Linked DNA regions of Homo sapiens: region 1 is linked to region 2. Evidence: fine-mapped expression QTL. A gene starts in region 2. The other region holds a variant in brackets. All regions are shown on one strand. Distances are between the middles of the regions.

What was found. PIP is the estimated chance that this variant, and not a neighbour inherited with it, causes the effect.
Region 1: its variant is fine-mapped to the expression of VPS13C in prefrontal cortex (BrainSeq, PIP 0.95).

What each region holds. Positions count from the first base shown.
Region 1 is chr15:62,013,374-62,021,719 of GRCh38, forward strand. VPS13C (vacuolar protein sorting 13 homolog C) reads right to left here. Exons shown (of 85, transcript NM_020821.3): 9 at 7,106-7,165; 10 at 560-619. Among named protein-coding and RNA genes, the nearest start is that of VPS13C, 43 kb to the right of the region's middle. The variant C/A (reference allele first, on the strand shown) is at 4,137.
Region 2 is chr15:62,055,543-62,063,888 of GRCh38, forward strand. It overlaps VPS13C (vacuolar protein sorting 13 homolog C), which reads right to left and starts at 4,905. Exons shown (of 85, transcript NM_020821.3): 1 at 4,733-4,905. The coding sequence starts at 4,832. It overlaps VPS13C-DT (VPS13C divergent transcript), which reads left to right and starts at 4,961. Exons shown (of 2, transcript NR_135690.1): 1 at 4,961-5,301; 2 at 5,426-6,892. RefSeq lists a silencer at 4,767-5,116 and an enhancer at 5,167-5,216.

The DNA of each region.
Region 1 (8,346 bases), 42 kb before region 2:
TATTCAGAAATTAGTATTTAACAGACCCTGTAAATATTTTGCTGAAAAAAAAAAGACATGATCCCTCCAGCAGATATGAATAGCTGTTTCCTGAAAACAGGTGGTAGCAGAGGAGTCTATGGTCAACAAGGTGGGAAAGCTACATACTAAATAGCCCTCTTGGAGATTCACAGTGTTTGTTAACATATCTAAAGCTCTATAGTTTAAAATAAAATGAAACGTATCTGTTTAATTATGTATAGCTTAGTACTTTAATCAATAATCTTACTTGATCAGAGAATATTTTCTCTACAACATCTCAAAATATCTCAATATCTAATAAAGTACCATTTGGGAAGTATTAACTGTATCCTGTATCTTCACTTGATAGGTAAAGAACCTATATCTCAGAACTGGTAAGTGATTACAGAGGGTCACATAGTAAGTAGCAGGGCCAAAACTAGACCCTAGACTTTTAACTCACACTCCAATGGCATATTCTGCTCCATCAATGTTTCTTCAAGAAAATAAATTAAGTGCACCTAGGAAACTAACAAAAATTTTTATTCCAACATAATACCTTGTATATAATTTTGTCTGCTTCATTTAATATGCATGGAGTCCAGTGTTCATTTGCAGTCTAAAAGAAAAAAGGGAATACCTGTGAAACGTGGTATGGATGTCATTAATAGCGCTCTAATACTTACATAATGTAACAAAATAATTTAGGAAGAAATGACATCTACTTAATGTTAACTAGTATTAGCTATCTATTTCTTTACATATATTTATAAGACAAAATCAAAGAAACAATGAAAAGAGAATTGACATGATTCTAATTTGAGTTCATTCATTCAGAAAATAATTACTGGGTTAATATGTATTTGAACTGTGGAAAGAATCAGGTATGAATGAAAACAGAGAGCCAGCCTATACACTATTGAATATGGTATACATTCTTTTTAAAAAAACAAGTAATTGTTTTGTAATAGGAAGAAAACCAGGAGAGTATGGAAATTACAGCATGACCAAGTTTCTACAAGGACAGCATGTTCAGCAACACCAAACACTAAACTTATTTAGCAGCAAGGGCGTTATTGAGAAACTTGTTAAGAACTGTTTCAGTGGAGTAGTAGAGTGAGAGTACAGTGAGCACATAGGTAAAATGAGATCCAGATCAGAGGTGGGAGGATAACTTTAGATTTATAAGTTAGATTGTAATTGCAAAGAAAAATAAATGGTATGGATACAAAAGAGGTAGGTTTACTATTGCTGTAGTTGTTATAATAGCCACTATAATAGCAGGAAATAATTGAGCCAGACAATGTGCCAAAAGCTTTACATAAACTATCTCATTTAATCATCACAAAAACACTAAAAGGTAGGTACTACTTCAGTGAATGAATGTGGTTTTGACAGAAGGAGATTAACATGATAACCAGTACAATAATATTTTACAGGTCTTTGACAAAATACAATAGGAAGCATAAAAGAGGGAATGGTAAATTCTAAGAAGGAAGTGAAAAAGAATGAGAAAGAAAGGTCATATATTACTTAAGTATTAAAACTTGAGTAGAATCACCAGGCAGAAAGTAATACAGACAACTAAAGCAGAATGAAGAGTCTGAGCAAAGATACAAAGGGACAAACAGCAGCAAACACTAAGGAAACTACCCATTCTTATGCAATAGTATACCTGTTATCAGACAATAGGAGGTATATGACTATTTTGTATTTTTTGCATTGTCTGCTAGAAGCTCAAAGTTACTCTGCTCCCTTATGACCACTATCATTAGTCACAGTTTTCTGGAACAATTCTCTCTCTATCCTTTAGAACACAGATTCTATCCTCTTTAAAGGTGTTACTGTATACTTGTTTTTGTCGAAAGCTACCTCAAATTCATTTTGGAAACAGGCAAAGGATAAACTAGTTTCCTCCCATGTTGTAGGTTGCCTGTTCACTCTGATGGTAGTTTCTTTTGCTGTGCAGAAGCTCTTGAGTTTAATTAGATCCCATTTGTCAATTTTGGCTTTTGTTGCCATTGCTTTTGGTGTTTTGGACATGAAGTCCTTGCCCACGCCTATGTCCTGAATGGTAATGCCTAGGTTTTCTTCTAGGGTTTTTATGGTTTATTGCGGCACTATTCACAATAGCAAAGACTTGGAACCAACCCAAATGTCCAACAATGATAGACTGGATTAAGAAAATGTGGCACATATACACCATGGAATACTATGCAGCCATAAAAAATGATGAGTTCATGTCCTTTGTAGGGACATGGATGAAATTGGAAACCATCATTCTCAGTAAACTATCGCAAGAACAAAAAACCAAACACCGCATATTCTCACTCATAGGTGGGAATTGAACAATGAGATCACATGGACACAGGAAGGGGAATATCACACTCTGGGGACTGTGGTGGGGTCGGGGGAGGGGGGAGGGGGGAGGGATAGCATTGGGAGATATACCTAATGCTAGATGACACGTTAGTGGGTGCAGCGCACCAGCATGGCACATGTATACATATGTAACTAACCTGCACAATGTGCACATGTACCCTAAAACTTAGAGTATAATAAAAATAAAAAATAAAAAAAGAAGTCCAAAAAAAAAAAAAAAAAAAAAAAACTAGTTTCCTTCACTGCCTTTCCTTTGTTTCTTCAGCTCTCTCTTTTTCTTTATTGTTTCTGCTCTGTTCTTCAATGCGATGTGTATCTCTACTTCTCTATATGCCCACAACATTGTGAAGCCTTCCACATAACCATGTCCTTCTTTTTCTGTTTCTCTGCCAGTCTACCACCCTACCATTCTTCTTCCTCTTCTTTCCTTATTGAGGCCCTCTCCATATAAGTAGTCATAAGGCAAACTTGTCTGGTATGATATATGGTTCACTGTCCTTAACTTTATTTTATATATATATATATTTTTATTATACTTTAAGTTCTAGGGTACATGTGCACAACGTGCAGATTAGTTACGTATGTATACATGTGCCATGCTGGTGTGCTGCACCCATTAACTCGTCATTTACATTAGGTATATCTCTTAATGCTATCCCTCCCCCCTCCCCCGACCCCACAACAGGCCCCAGTGTGTGATATTCCCCTTCCTGTGTCCAAGTGTTCTCATTGTTCAATTCCCACCTATGAGTGAGAACATGCAGTGTTTGGTTTTTTGTCCTTGCAATAGTTTGCTGAGAATGATGGTTTCCAGCTTCATCCATGTCCCTACAAAGGACATGAACTCATCATTTTTTATGGCTGCATAGTATTCCATGGTGTATATGTGCCACATTTTCTTAATCCAGTCTATCACTGTTGGACACTTGGGTTGGTTCCAAGTCTTTGCTATTGTGAGTAGTGCTGCAGTAAACACATGTGTACATGTGTCTTTAGAGCAGCATGATTTATATTCCTTTGGGTATATACCCAGTAATAGGATGGCTAGGTCAAATGGTATTTCTAGTTCTAGATCCCTGAGGAATCGCCACACTGTCTTCCACAATGGTTGAACTAGTTTACAGTCCCACCAACAGTGTAAAAGTGTTTCTATTTCTCCACATCCTCTCCAGCACCTGTTGTTTCCTGACTTTTCAATGATCGCCATTCTAACTGGTGTGAGATGATATCTCATTGCGGTTTTGATTTGCATTTCTCTGATGGCCAGTGATGATGAGCATTTTTTCATGTGTCTGTTGGCTGCATAAATGTCTTCTTTTGAGAAGCGTCTTCTTTTGAGAAGTGTCTGTTCATATCCTTCGCACACTTGTTGATGGGGTTGTTTTTTTCTTCTAAATTTGTTTGAGTTCTTTGTAGATTCTGGATATTAGCCCTTTGTCAGATGAGTAGGTTGCAAAAATTTTCTCCCATTCTGTAGGTTGCCTATTCACTCTGATGATAGTTTCTTTTGCTGTGCAGAAGCTCTTTAGTTAAATTAGATCCCATTTGTCAATTTTGGCTTTTGTTGCCATTGCTTTTGGTGTTTTAGACATGAAGTCCTTGCCCATGCCTATGTCCTGAATGGTATTGCCTAGGTTTTCTTCTAGGGTTTTTATGGTTTTAGGTCTAACATGTAAGTCTTTAGTCCATCTTGAATTGATTTTTGTATAAGGTGTAAGGAAGGGATCCAGTTTCAGCTTTCTACATATGGCTAG[C/A]CAGTTTTCCCAGCACCATTTGTTAAATAGGGAATCCTTTCCCCATTGCTTGTTTTCGTCAGGTTTGTCAAAGATCAGATAGTTGTAGATGTGTGGTATTATTTCTGAGGGCTCTGTTCTGTTTCATTGGTCTGTATCTCTGTTTTGGTACCAGTACCATGCTGTTTTGGTTACTGTAGCCTTGGAGTATAGTTTGAAGTCAGGTAGCGTGATGCCTCCAGCTTTGTTCTTTTGGCTTAGGATTGACTTGGCAATGTGGGCTCTTTTTTGGTTCCATACGAACTTTAAAGTAGTTTTTTCCAATTCTGTGAAGAAAGTCATTGGTAGCTTGATGGGGATGGCACTGAATCTATAAATTATCTTGGGCAGTATGGCCATTTTCACGATATTGATTCTTCCTATCCATGAGCATGGAATGTTCTTCCATTTGTTTGTGTCCTCTTTTATTTCATTGAGCAGTGGTTTGTAGTTCTCCTTGAAGAGGTCCTTCACGTCCCTTGTAAGTTGGATTCCTAGGTATTTTATTCTCTTTGAATCAATTGTGAATGGGAGTTCACTCATGATTTGGCTCTCCGTTTGTCTGTTATTGGTGTATAAGAATGCTTGTGATTTTTGCACATTGATTTTGTATCCTGAGACTTTGCTGAAGTTGCTTATCAGCTTAAGGAGATTTGGGGCTGAGACGATGGGGTTTTCTAGATATACAATCATGTCATCTGCAAACACGGACAATTTGACTTCCTCTTTTCCTAATTGAATACCCTTTATTTCTTTCTCCTGCTTGACTGCCCTGGCCAGAACTTCCAACACTATGTGGAATAGGAGTGGTGAGAGAGGGCATCCCTGTCTTGTGCCAGTTTTCAAAGGGAATGCTTCCAGTTTTTGCCCATTCACTATGATATTGGCTGTGGGTTTTTCATAAATAGCTCTTATTATTTTGAGATACATCCCATCAATACCTAATCTATTGAGAGTTTTTAGCATGAAGGGCTGTTGAATTTTGTCAAAGGCCTTTTCTGCATCTATTGAGATAATCATGTGGTTTTTGTCTTTGGTTCTGTTTATATGCTGGATTACATTTATTGATTTGCGTATGTTGAACCAGCCTTGCATCCCAGGGATGAAGCCTTCTTGTCCATGGTGGATAAGCTTTTTGATGTGCTGCTGGATTCGGTTTGCCAGTATTTTATTGAGGATTTTTGCATCGATGTTCATCAAGGATATTGGTCTAAAATTCTCTTTTTTGGTTGTGTCTCTGCCAGGCTTTGGTATCAGGATGCTGCTGGACTCATAAAATGAGTTAGGGAGGATTCCCTCTTTTTCTATTGATTGGAATAGTTTCAGAAGGAATGGTACCAGCTCCTCCTTGTACCTCTGGTAGAATTCGGCTGTGAATCCGTCTGGTCCTGGACTTTTTTTGGTTGGTAAGCTATTAATTATTGCCTCAATTTCAGAGCCTGTTATTGATCTATTCAGAGATTCAACTTCTTCCTGGTTTAGTCTTGGGAGGGTGTATGTGTCGAGGAATTTGTCCATTTCTTCTAGATTTTCTAGTTTATTTGCGTAGAGGTGTTTATAGTATTCTCTGATGGTAGTTTTGTATTTCTGTGGGATCGGTGGTGATATCCCCTTTACTATTTTTTATTGCGTCTATCTGATTCTTCTCTCTTTTCTCCTTTACTAGTCTTACTAGCAGTCTATCGATTTTGTTGATCTTTTCAAAAAACCAGCTCCTGGATTCATTGATTTTTTGAAGGGTTTTTTGTGTCTCTATTTCCTTCAGTTCTGCTCTGATCTTAGTTATTTCTTGCCTTCTGCTAGCTTTTGAATGTGTTTGCTCTTGCTGCTCTAGTTCTTTTAATTGTGATGTTAGGGTGTCAATTTTAGATCCTTCCTGCTTTCTCTTGTGGGCATTTAGTGCTGCAAATTTCCCTCTACACACTGCTTTTAATGTGTCCCAGAGATTCTGGTATGTTGTGTCTTTGTTCTCGTTGGTTTCAAAGAACATCTTTATTTCTGCCTTCATTTCGTTATGCACCCAGTAGTCATTCAGGAGAAGGTTGTTCAGTTTCCATGTAGTTGAGTGGTTTTGAGTGAGTTTCTTAATCCTGAGTTCTAGTTTGATTGCACTGTGGTCTGAGAGACTGTTTGTTATAATTTCTGTTCTTTACATTTGCTGAGGAGTGCTTTACTTCCAACTATGTGGTCAATTTTGGAATAGGTGAGGTGTGGTGCTGAGAAGAATGTATATTCTGTTGATTTGGGGTGGACAGTTCTGTAGATGTCTATTGGGTCTGCTTGGTGCAGAGCTGAATTCAATTCCTGTACTGTCCTTAACTTTAAAAGTATCTAAGTGAACCACATCTTCCTCTCCATACATGCCCCAAAACATGTTTCCTACCACTTAGTTGCCTGTAATAGAAATAAAAATGTCCAGCCTATATATATATATACATATATATATATGTATGTGTGTATATATATACAGACACACACTGTCTACTGTTAAAGACCATTAAAAGAAAAACTCATTATAAAATAATCAAAATAAATTAATTTACATATTGCCCAATGAGATGAGTGTGCGCACACACACACACATACATAAACATATGCATATCTATAAGCTATTTAGAAATTCCATCTACCTATACCGAAGATGAGTACATGACTCTACAGAAATTCATCTTCCCCTACTTCCCCCACATGTTTAAGATACAGCTTTTATTTCTTTCAAATCATTTGATAATGATATTTTGATACCTGTTACACAGAAAGACAAAAATAATTTTAAAATGTAATAATAGCATCACTAAAAATGTTAAACTTCTAGAAAAGTTGTTTAGCATGATAATATATTTAAAAAATCATAGTTCTTTGTCGCATAGTTGATTCTAGACAATTTACCCTGTGACTTCAGAATAATACTTTACAGGTTCCATAGAAGTTTAAAATAAAGCAAACATTACCAGTAGACTAAGCTCTCCCAGTGTGACACCAAATGAAAGAGGCCGCTTTGGATCAGTGACCTACCAAAGAAGAAAAGATAACAGTAAAATATGCTGATGGTGAAGGCGAATCCATGTCCTTTACAATAGGCAGCAGAGGGAAATGTGTTTACAGGTTAAGCCATACAACCCAAATGGATTTGTGGAAAACACAGGGGAAGGAGGTAATAACATGGCTGGGATTATCCATATTTTGTAGACATAACATTTCTATGCTACCAATAAGATCCTTTCCCAGTGGAACTCTTTTCATACTAGAAGATGACTCACTAACTATGACTAACAAGACTTCTCTCTAGACAGTTAAAAAGGAATAATCTTTTTATGTGTATAATCAAAGATTTTTTCACAGATAAATTTTAAAAGGTGTTACAGATAACACTGCCACTAAATCATTTTAATAACACTTAGGGTACATAGTGGAATACTATTCAGCCATAAAAAAGGAAAACATGTTTGTTTGGGTTTTTTTGCAGCAACATGGATGGAACTGGAGGCCATTATCTTAAGTGAAACAACCCAGAAGCAGAAAAACAAACTGCACGTTCTCACTTATAAGTGGCAGCTAAATAATGAATACACGTGGTCAGTGTGTGGAATAATACACATTGGAGACTTGAAAGGGTAGGGTGGGTGAGAAGTAGGTGTAAATGATAGGAAATTTATTAATGGGTACAATGTATATTATGGGTGATGGAGACACTAAAAGTTCAGACTTCACCACTATGCAGTATATCATGTAACAACACTGCACTTGTACTCCTTAAATTTACACATTTTAAAAAAAAGGCTTTCATACTTGGAAATATGAACTATCTCTTTAAGCCTTTAATGTTCTTAACACTTCAAAATGCTTCTAGGAAAATCTCTAGATCCTTAATATTTAATTTCTTTAGTCTCTATATCCAAAATCTGTCAACATTAAGTTTTTGTTGTATTTCTGATCTTCAATATCTAAGTTGCAATCCACAGTGCTTAAACTATACCACAGTGTGCACAGTATCACCATTTTAGACATCTTAAAGAAAAGTCTTATAGAATTGTTTGGTCATGGCAGAAACTAAGGGAAATAAGGAGAAGGGAAATGGATAATGTTCTAAATCATCCAACTGGGACTCCAGAGTTTAGTCACATACAATTTTCTAAATGGAAAAAAATCCATGTGGTACAGTTGAGAAGTACGAATAGCTTTATAAGTCATT
Region 2 (8,346 bases):
TCAACCTTTTTTAATTGTAAATTTCATTATGAACGCCTATATATACATATATGAATATATGCACACTATGATGTTTTCCAAATCATGTTAACACAATATTTCGATCTTAAAACTACTTCCAAAGATCATCCAAGCAAAGATTACGCATTTTTATTGACATGATACCTTTCAGTCACTTAAGATATCAATTTCTCTCTCGAATTACAGATTTCGTTAAGAGTAATCTACTTCTTCCGTGTCCTTTTTAAAACCTTACAATTTTTTCAGCACCCAGTAGGTCCCTTACAAATGCAGAAGACAATCTCAGTCTTCTTCTTAGACTAGGGTTTCTCAACTAACATTTTGAGCTGGACAATTCGCTGCAGGAAGTTGTCCTCTGCATTGTAGAATGTTTAGCAGTACTCCAGGGTCTATCTGCTACATGCCAATAGCACACCTCTTCCCTCAGTGTGGCAACCAAAAAGTCTCAGACACTGTCAAATATACCCTGGGTACAAAGTCACCTCCCACTGAAAATCACTGCTTTAGGCTAGTTAGACATTCCAGTTAAGATGTATCAAAGTAGTTTATCAATTGATTCCAAAGAATAGTAAGATCAGGTATGTGAGGTGGGCGGCAAGCCACCCAGGCGCCAAGGCAAGAGACCAAGGACACGAGCTGTTCCAGTATAATAAAATATAAAACAAGAATAGTTATACCATATAGATCTTAGAGATATATGAATATCATTAATCATTAGTTTGCAGTAATTACTCTTTATCCCAATATTATAATAATCCTCGCTGTACAATCATAACCTAGGAAAAACCAGGCCATACAGAGATAGGAGCTGAGGGGACATAGTGAGGTGTGACCAGAAGACAAGAGTGCGAGCCTTCTGTTATGCCCGGACAGGGCCAGCAGAAGGGCTCCTTGGTCTAGCGGTAACGCCAGCATCTAGGAAGACGCCCGTTGCCGAGCGGAAGGTGGTCTAGCGGTAGCGAAAAGTGTCAAGGAAAAACACCCGCGACTTAGCAGACCAGGGAAGGGAGGCTCCCTTTCCCCGGGGGAGTTTAGATAAGACTCTGCTCCTCCACCTCTTGTGGAGGGCCTGACATCAGTCAGGCTTGCCCGCAGTTATCCGGAGGCCTAACCGTCTCCCTGTGATGCTGTGCTTCAGTGGTCACGCTCCTAGTCCGCCTTCATGTTCCATCCTGTACACCTGGCTCTGCCTTCTAGATAGCAGTAGTCAATTAGTGAAAGTAGTAAAAGTCTCTGATATGCAGAAATAACGGCATAAGCTATCTTTCTCTCTGTCTCCTCTCTCTCTCTGCCTCGGCTGCCAGGCAGGGAAGGGCCCCCTGTCCTGTGGACACGTGACCCACGTGACCTTACCTATCATTGGAGATGACCCACACTCTTTACCCTGCCCCTTTTGCTTTGTATCCAATAAATAACAGCGCAGCCAGACATTCGGGGCCACTACCGGTCTCCGCGCATTGGTGGTAGCGGTCCCCCGGGCCCAGCTGTCTTTTCTTTTATCTCTTTGTCTTGTGTCTTTATTTCTACACTCTCTCGTCGCCGCACACAGGGAGAGACCCACCGACCCTGTGGGGCTGGTCCCTACAGTGAAATATTTACAAGATGAATTCTTCCCTTTCTCAAGACTTGAAAATTCAACAACAACAACAAAAAAAAAACTCTGTGAACTGTAAACCTTATCTGCTAAAGCAAATAGTTGTCAAAGAAGATTATATAGAATTTTCAATTTTTTGTAAAACTTGTCAACATCATGGTTATCATAAAATGTCACCTATTTTATTAAATTAATATTCCCATTTGTTTACCCAAAAAAGTTTAAGACAAATTTCTTTAGCAATATTTTGAAAGAACAGGAAAAATCAACTCAGATATCTTGCCTTCCAATTTTATTGAGAAATTAGGGTTATCAACAACAGACTGTGCAATAATGATAAAAGCTCGTGACTTCTAGCTTTATAGCAACCACAAAAATAAAAGGCAGCAAAGCTTTACAGAGGCAGAGTTGTGAGCTGATAAAGCTAGGAGAATCCCTGATTGGATGTTCACTAGACACAATATGTGAAAGAAATGGGTTTATTTGCTCAGGCCTATTATAAAGTTAATGTTGGCCACTGGCAGAATACCTTATTCTAAAAATTTAAAAATGAGATGAAAGAAAGTCTCCTTTTCTAGATTTCACCAAAAAAAGACAAAAGGGGAAATAACATAAAATTACGACATTTTTAATTTCAGTTGTGAAAAACTTCAAAATCTTCAAGCAGTATACTCCTCAATGTCATGGTAAAACCATTATCAGAAGAACAGAATATTGGCATCACCTTCGATGTTACCTAGTCCAACCTCCAATTTTAAAGATAAAAGAGAGTAACATTTGATGGCAATGGAACCTCTGACTATATCCATACGTTTTATCTTTTTAAAAAGAAAATGTCTAAAGTAAATATGGCATAATATTATAACATTGAAATATGAGTAATTACATGAAAGTATTATATCATCCAGTATGATTTAAACTTTTCAGAATTTAAAAATATTTTTTCTATAAAGTTTAAATTAAGATGAAGAAACTAAGGCCCAATAAGGTAAGTGGCTTGTCCAACACAGCACACCATTCACTAGGCCTATTCAGATTTCAGATTTGCTACTCCGGTGCGTTTTCAAGTTTCAAATGTTTACAAACTATAAGGAATCACTGGAAAGAATATTGCCAGTATTCTGAAGAAATACTTGATTTCTGCAGAAGATGCTGGTCATTTAATTCCTTAAATGTGTCTTTCTTTACTTACCTTTCCTTTACATTGTATTGAGTGTGGTGGGGGGATGTAAACAAAGAATGTACAGTAGGCCCTCCATATTCACGGACTGAACTAACTGCAGACCAAAAATATTTCGGGGGGAAAAAATAAAAAGTATCAATTCAGCAATAAAAAAATGCAAATTAAAAAACAACAGAACAACTATTTACATAGCACTTACTTATTGGGTATTATAAGCAATCCAGAGATGACCAAAAGTATACAGAAGGATATGCATAGGGTACATACAAATACTAGGCCATTTTATTTAAGGGACTTGAGCAACCTCCAATTTTGGTATGGTCAGGGGTACTGAAGCCAATCCCCCATAGATACCAAGGGACTATTGTATTGTTGGGCAAACCACAGTGAACCAATCAAATGATCAGCCACCTATTAAAAACAGGCTCTTGCCAGGCACTATAGCTCACACCTGTAATCCTAGCACTTTGGGAGGCTGAGGCAGGAGGATCACTTCAGCCCAGGAGTTGGAGGCTGCAATGAGCTACGATCTTGCCACTGCACTCCAGCCTTGGCAACAGAGCAAGTCCTTGTCTCAAAAAGACAAGCCAAAAAAAAAAAACAACAACAACAACAACCAGGCTCTTCCGTAATTCAGGGTATAAACAGCATTGCCCAATATATGTTCCATATACGTAATTATAAATTTTAGAAGCCAAGTTTAAAAAGAAAAAAAGTAAAACTAAAAAACACGGGAAATACACTTTAATATTATATTTAATTTAACCCAATATATTCAAATATTATTTCAACACATAAGCAACATAAAAATTATTGAGGTATTATTTTTTTCTCCTACTTCATTAGGAGTAATGCTTATTCAAAACGATGTTTTAATTCATACAGCAAGTCTCAATTAGCACTAACCTCATATCAAGTGCTCCACAGCTACAGTGGCTAGTGGTTACCCTAGTGGACAGGGGAAGTCTATAGCTATTTGTTGTTGCTTGAATTAAAAGCAGATCCATACATTTGAGTCGTTTTTTGAATTTTCCTCCAAAGCTGACAAAGTTCCCAAACCTTTTGTGGAGTGAGAAAGTCCCAAAGTCCTCAAAGCTTAACACGTAATTCATGCAAACGATTAAGCTCGTTGAAGAGTGTATGTTTAAGTACACTATTTCCTGAATACTTTTATACACTTAATCTCCAGGATAAAAACGTTGGCATAAATTCCTGAGCATGCAACCAAGCAGACACCTAATTAATGACGATGCTGGTCGAGGCTTGAATTTCTCTCTATTGCTCCAAAACAAAATTCAAAATCCTCTTCGTATTGACGGAAAAGTAAATATTAAAGGAAGAAATCATTTTCACAGGAGCTGAAAGCATTAAGAGTAAGAATCCCTAAGCACACGCCTATCTTAAAGATCTCCTGCCCGTTCCTCTCCAAACCCGGTAATCCTAAAGAGAAGGAACCCAGTTCTTGCTCCCTGTAAAATGATAGTGAAGATAACTGCGAGATGCAACTTCCTCCTTTTTTCTTAGTGCCACTTCGAGCGTATATGACCAGACAACCATGCTCACTCCACGCGATACCGAAACAGAAAGGGCTCTGTTTTTATGCTGTAGGGCCAAAGGGGCCACCCTGAGTGCAGCGAGAGGACCACAGAAACGGGCAGGGCGGGGACAGCAGGGCCAGGGCTTGGCCTCGGGGGACGAGAAAGGTGGGAACTTTGGCAGCGCGGGCGGGATCCCGCCGCATCTCCCCAGCCGGAGTCGGGACTGGGACCCCGAGAATCCGCGGGCGGCAGAGGCTCCCGCATCTAGCACCTGCCGCACCGGGATGGGGAGTCTCAGGCGGCGCAGGGAGCAGGGCCCGGGCAGAATCCCGGACGGAGCAGCCCTCGGCTGGGCCCTCAGCGCCCGCAGCCCACTGGCCGCGCCCTCTCGCTTACCGCCCCAGATGCCCAGCTTCAGCTGGGACTTGTTCAGGTTCTCCACATAGTCCCCCAGGAAGCGGTTCAGCAAGTCCGCGACCACCGACTCCAGCACCATGGTGGCGCTGAGGCACAAGGAGAGGGAGGAGCCGGAACCGCCCGGCGCAGCTGAGGGCTGCGACCAGCGCTGCAAATGACAGCCCCTCCGGCGCAGGCCCACCCCCGCGCCGCGCGCGTGACCCCGCCGGTGCGCAGGCGCGCTGTCGCCCGGCCGGTAGCTAAGGAGGCCCAGCTGTGATCCCGAGGCTTTGTAGGCGCCGCAGCCCTGGCCCTCTAGAGGCCGACGGAGGAGTGCGGGGGAAGTTAGCTTGCGCCTGTCTCGTCAGCCGTGCACGAGAAAAAAAAGGACCTTCGAGAAGAACAAGGGAGGGCAAGAGTTACCGAGTACAGGGACATCTATGTGGCCGCTCTGCTTTCCCGCCGTCACCTGCTGTTGAACTCCGGCCGCATCGCGGTGTCCGGAGCCGCCTGGCCTGGAGTATGCGCTGAGCGTCACCTAGGCAACCACCCCTGCACCTGTGGATCAGGTGGGGGAAAGGGACCGACCGCGTTCTTGTCCTGCTAGAGTTCGACTCCGCCTGGGGCTTGGTCTCTGCTTCTTGAAAACATTGTTTTTTTATTTTGTTTCTGTTTTGTTTTGTTTTGAGACAGGGTCTCGCTCTGTTGCCAAGGGTAGAATGCAGTGTCGGGATCATAGCTCACTACAGACTTGACATCCTGGACTCAAGAGATCCTCCTGTGTCAGCCTCCCGAGTAGCTGGGACCACTGGCGCGCGACAAATAATTTGAAAGTGGGAGGAGGGGAACAGAACCACATCAAATGGCAGATATCATAGAATGAGAACTGAATATACGCGTTTTGTGGGAAACGCGTTCTTTTCCCCTTTCTCTAAGATTCGCTTTTAATTCACTAGCCACTAACCAGTTACCTATCTCATTACAGATATAAAAAACAAAACGTAGTAGTGCCTTTTTAAGTATGAGTTACTTGTTATTTATATATCACTTTCTTCCATGCTATCGTTGAACTGTCTTTGATGTAGCACGACCTTAAAAGCAGAGCTTTTATACCACAAGATCTTTCAACCCTTGTGAAATTTAACCACCCATTGAGATTCACCTCTTTAGAGAACTAGAAATTTTTTCCTAAAATATATTTCAAAAAGTTGTTGAGATACAGTACACAGGAAGAAACCTAAGAAATGCTGATTATTTGTAGTCACAAGCATTAATAAGTGCTTTGCTACGAGGAAGTGTCTGAGAAACTATTCGTGTATTTTTCTTAAACAACCTAGGCTTGCACAGGATCACAAAGAAAAATCTTAAATTCAAAGTCCGCTGGAGAAGAAAGAAAATCAAAATGGCTACAATTGGTGTTGTGTATTAAATAAAATTAAAAGTACAAAGAAAGACCCAGTCAGTACTAACTAGTACTATCAAGATCACATTCCTCTCCCACTTTTGCACACTCCATTCCTCTTTAAGAAGATAAATCCTTAACCGTCTGTTTTTCCTAGCTGGTCACAAAGACAAAATACTAGTAAGTACTTTGGATTTCTTCACCATCCACAACCAAATAACAGCCTAACCTGTCTATTTTGCTTTTGCCATCTTTCCTAAATTCTCCATGTTTTTCTTCTGGACCATGCCATCCATCTCCTTGAAATTCACTTCCTAGCCTCCAGTTATTCCTTCCTCCAGTCTATTCTCATGAACACCGGATGTGTTTTCCCAAAGCACAGGTGAGCTTAGGTTAGTCACCTGCTCAAAAACATCCAATAACTTCCCAGTGTTTAGAACACTCTCTTCAAACTTTCTCCACGTTCTTTCTAGTCATACACTCTAACAATCCCGCTTCCTTTTTACATTCACACTGACTATGCTCCAAGAGGAATGTAAAGAAGCAATATATGTTCTGGTTGAGATAAGGCATGTACCATAAAAAGTTAAGAAAGAAGCCAATCCAAGGATGTATGAATAACAGTATAAGATGATAGGAAAGATGGCACAGGCAACATAGCTTGGTCAAGCAGGTGGAGCAATAGGCACAATCTCTTGGGAGAAGTGAGTAACACTAATGCTTTGTCTAATAAAGTAATTCCTTACAGTTCTATGGTATAACTTGGTAATTTTGAAAGAATAATGTGTAAATGTGCTTTCATATGCATCATTCAATTTTATTATGTTTCAGTTATACTTTGTAAGGCCTCATGTCATTATTATGCGAAGGTAGGCATTTTTGTGTACTCCTCACAAAAGAGCTGTGAGGTAGCTAATGCAGGTAGTAGTATGGTCCTCATTTTACAGAAAAATTAAGCTCGGGAATGTTAAGTGACTTACCCAAAGTCACACAGCAGATATTAATTTCCTTTGATTCTCTGAGCACTGCCACCCTTTTCTCTTCTGGTAATTATACAATTTAATCAACACTGGGCTATTAGTCATTTTCAGAGATCTTACTTTGAAAGGTTCATGACAGAAAAAATAAATCTCAGAGTGGAAAATTTGGCTCTACATTTTTGGTACAAAAAAATGCTATTATCATGTAGTATAAAAAGCTTTAAATTTTACTATTTTCCATTTTCAGCATGTTTTAAGGGATTGATTATGTGCATTCAGTAATGCCCCAAATCTTCCATTATTTAACAAGTCAGAAATATACAGTCCCAATTTAAAACAAACTATAACCAATGTCAAGAAACACCATTAGCACCCTTATGTATGGCATTATATCAGAAATAATTTGGATAACAGAGGTTAAAGAAAATGAGCATTCTAATTAATTATAGTTCTTGCCTTCATTCTGGCTTAAGAACAATGAGAATGACAACAAAGGAAATTACAAAACTAAACTTCAATGAGGGACTAAACAATAAAAACAGATGAGCAAAGTATTTCTGTTAAAAACAAAAGTATAAGTTAGGGACACTTAAAAATTAACTCAAAAGTGTTTAAAAAAAAAAAAAAAACTTCACACTAACCACCACCCATACCCTATTCCCCAACCCTAGAGTTTTTGGAGAAAAGCAGAAGGAATTTGGGGGAAAGGAAATGGAGGAGAAAGCTGGAGTATAAGCCATGACACCATGGACTGCAGGAAAAGTTAGGGAGGTTAACTAGGAGAAAGCACGGGAGTGGATTTCAGAATGTTAGTGCCAGAGGGAGGATCATCCTGTTAATCCAGCCCCCTCAATTGACAGATGGAGACACTGAGTGCCAGGGAGAATTAAGGGTTTGCCCAAAGTCCCACAAGTTAGTGACTGTCAGAGCAAAAACCCAAACCCAAGTGTCCTGACTCCCTGCTCTGTATTCTTTCCAGTACCCCATACTCTAGTTGTGTTGAACAAGATGCATAAGTCAGAACACTGGTGTTTTATTGGTTGTAATCTCTCTTCTTGCTTTCCTTGACACTCAACCTCCTATATTTTTGTAAGTATGCTTTAAAATGTTTAATTTCCTTTTACTCTTAGAGCACCTCTGGTCTTGATGGTATGTGGTCTATTCATGCTCACTTTACAGAATTGTTTTCCAGCTCCAATACTGGATGTTCCCACAGCTACAGCTGGGAGCTT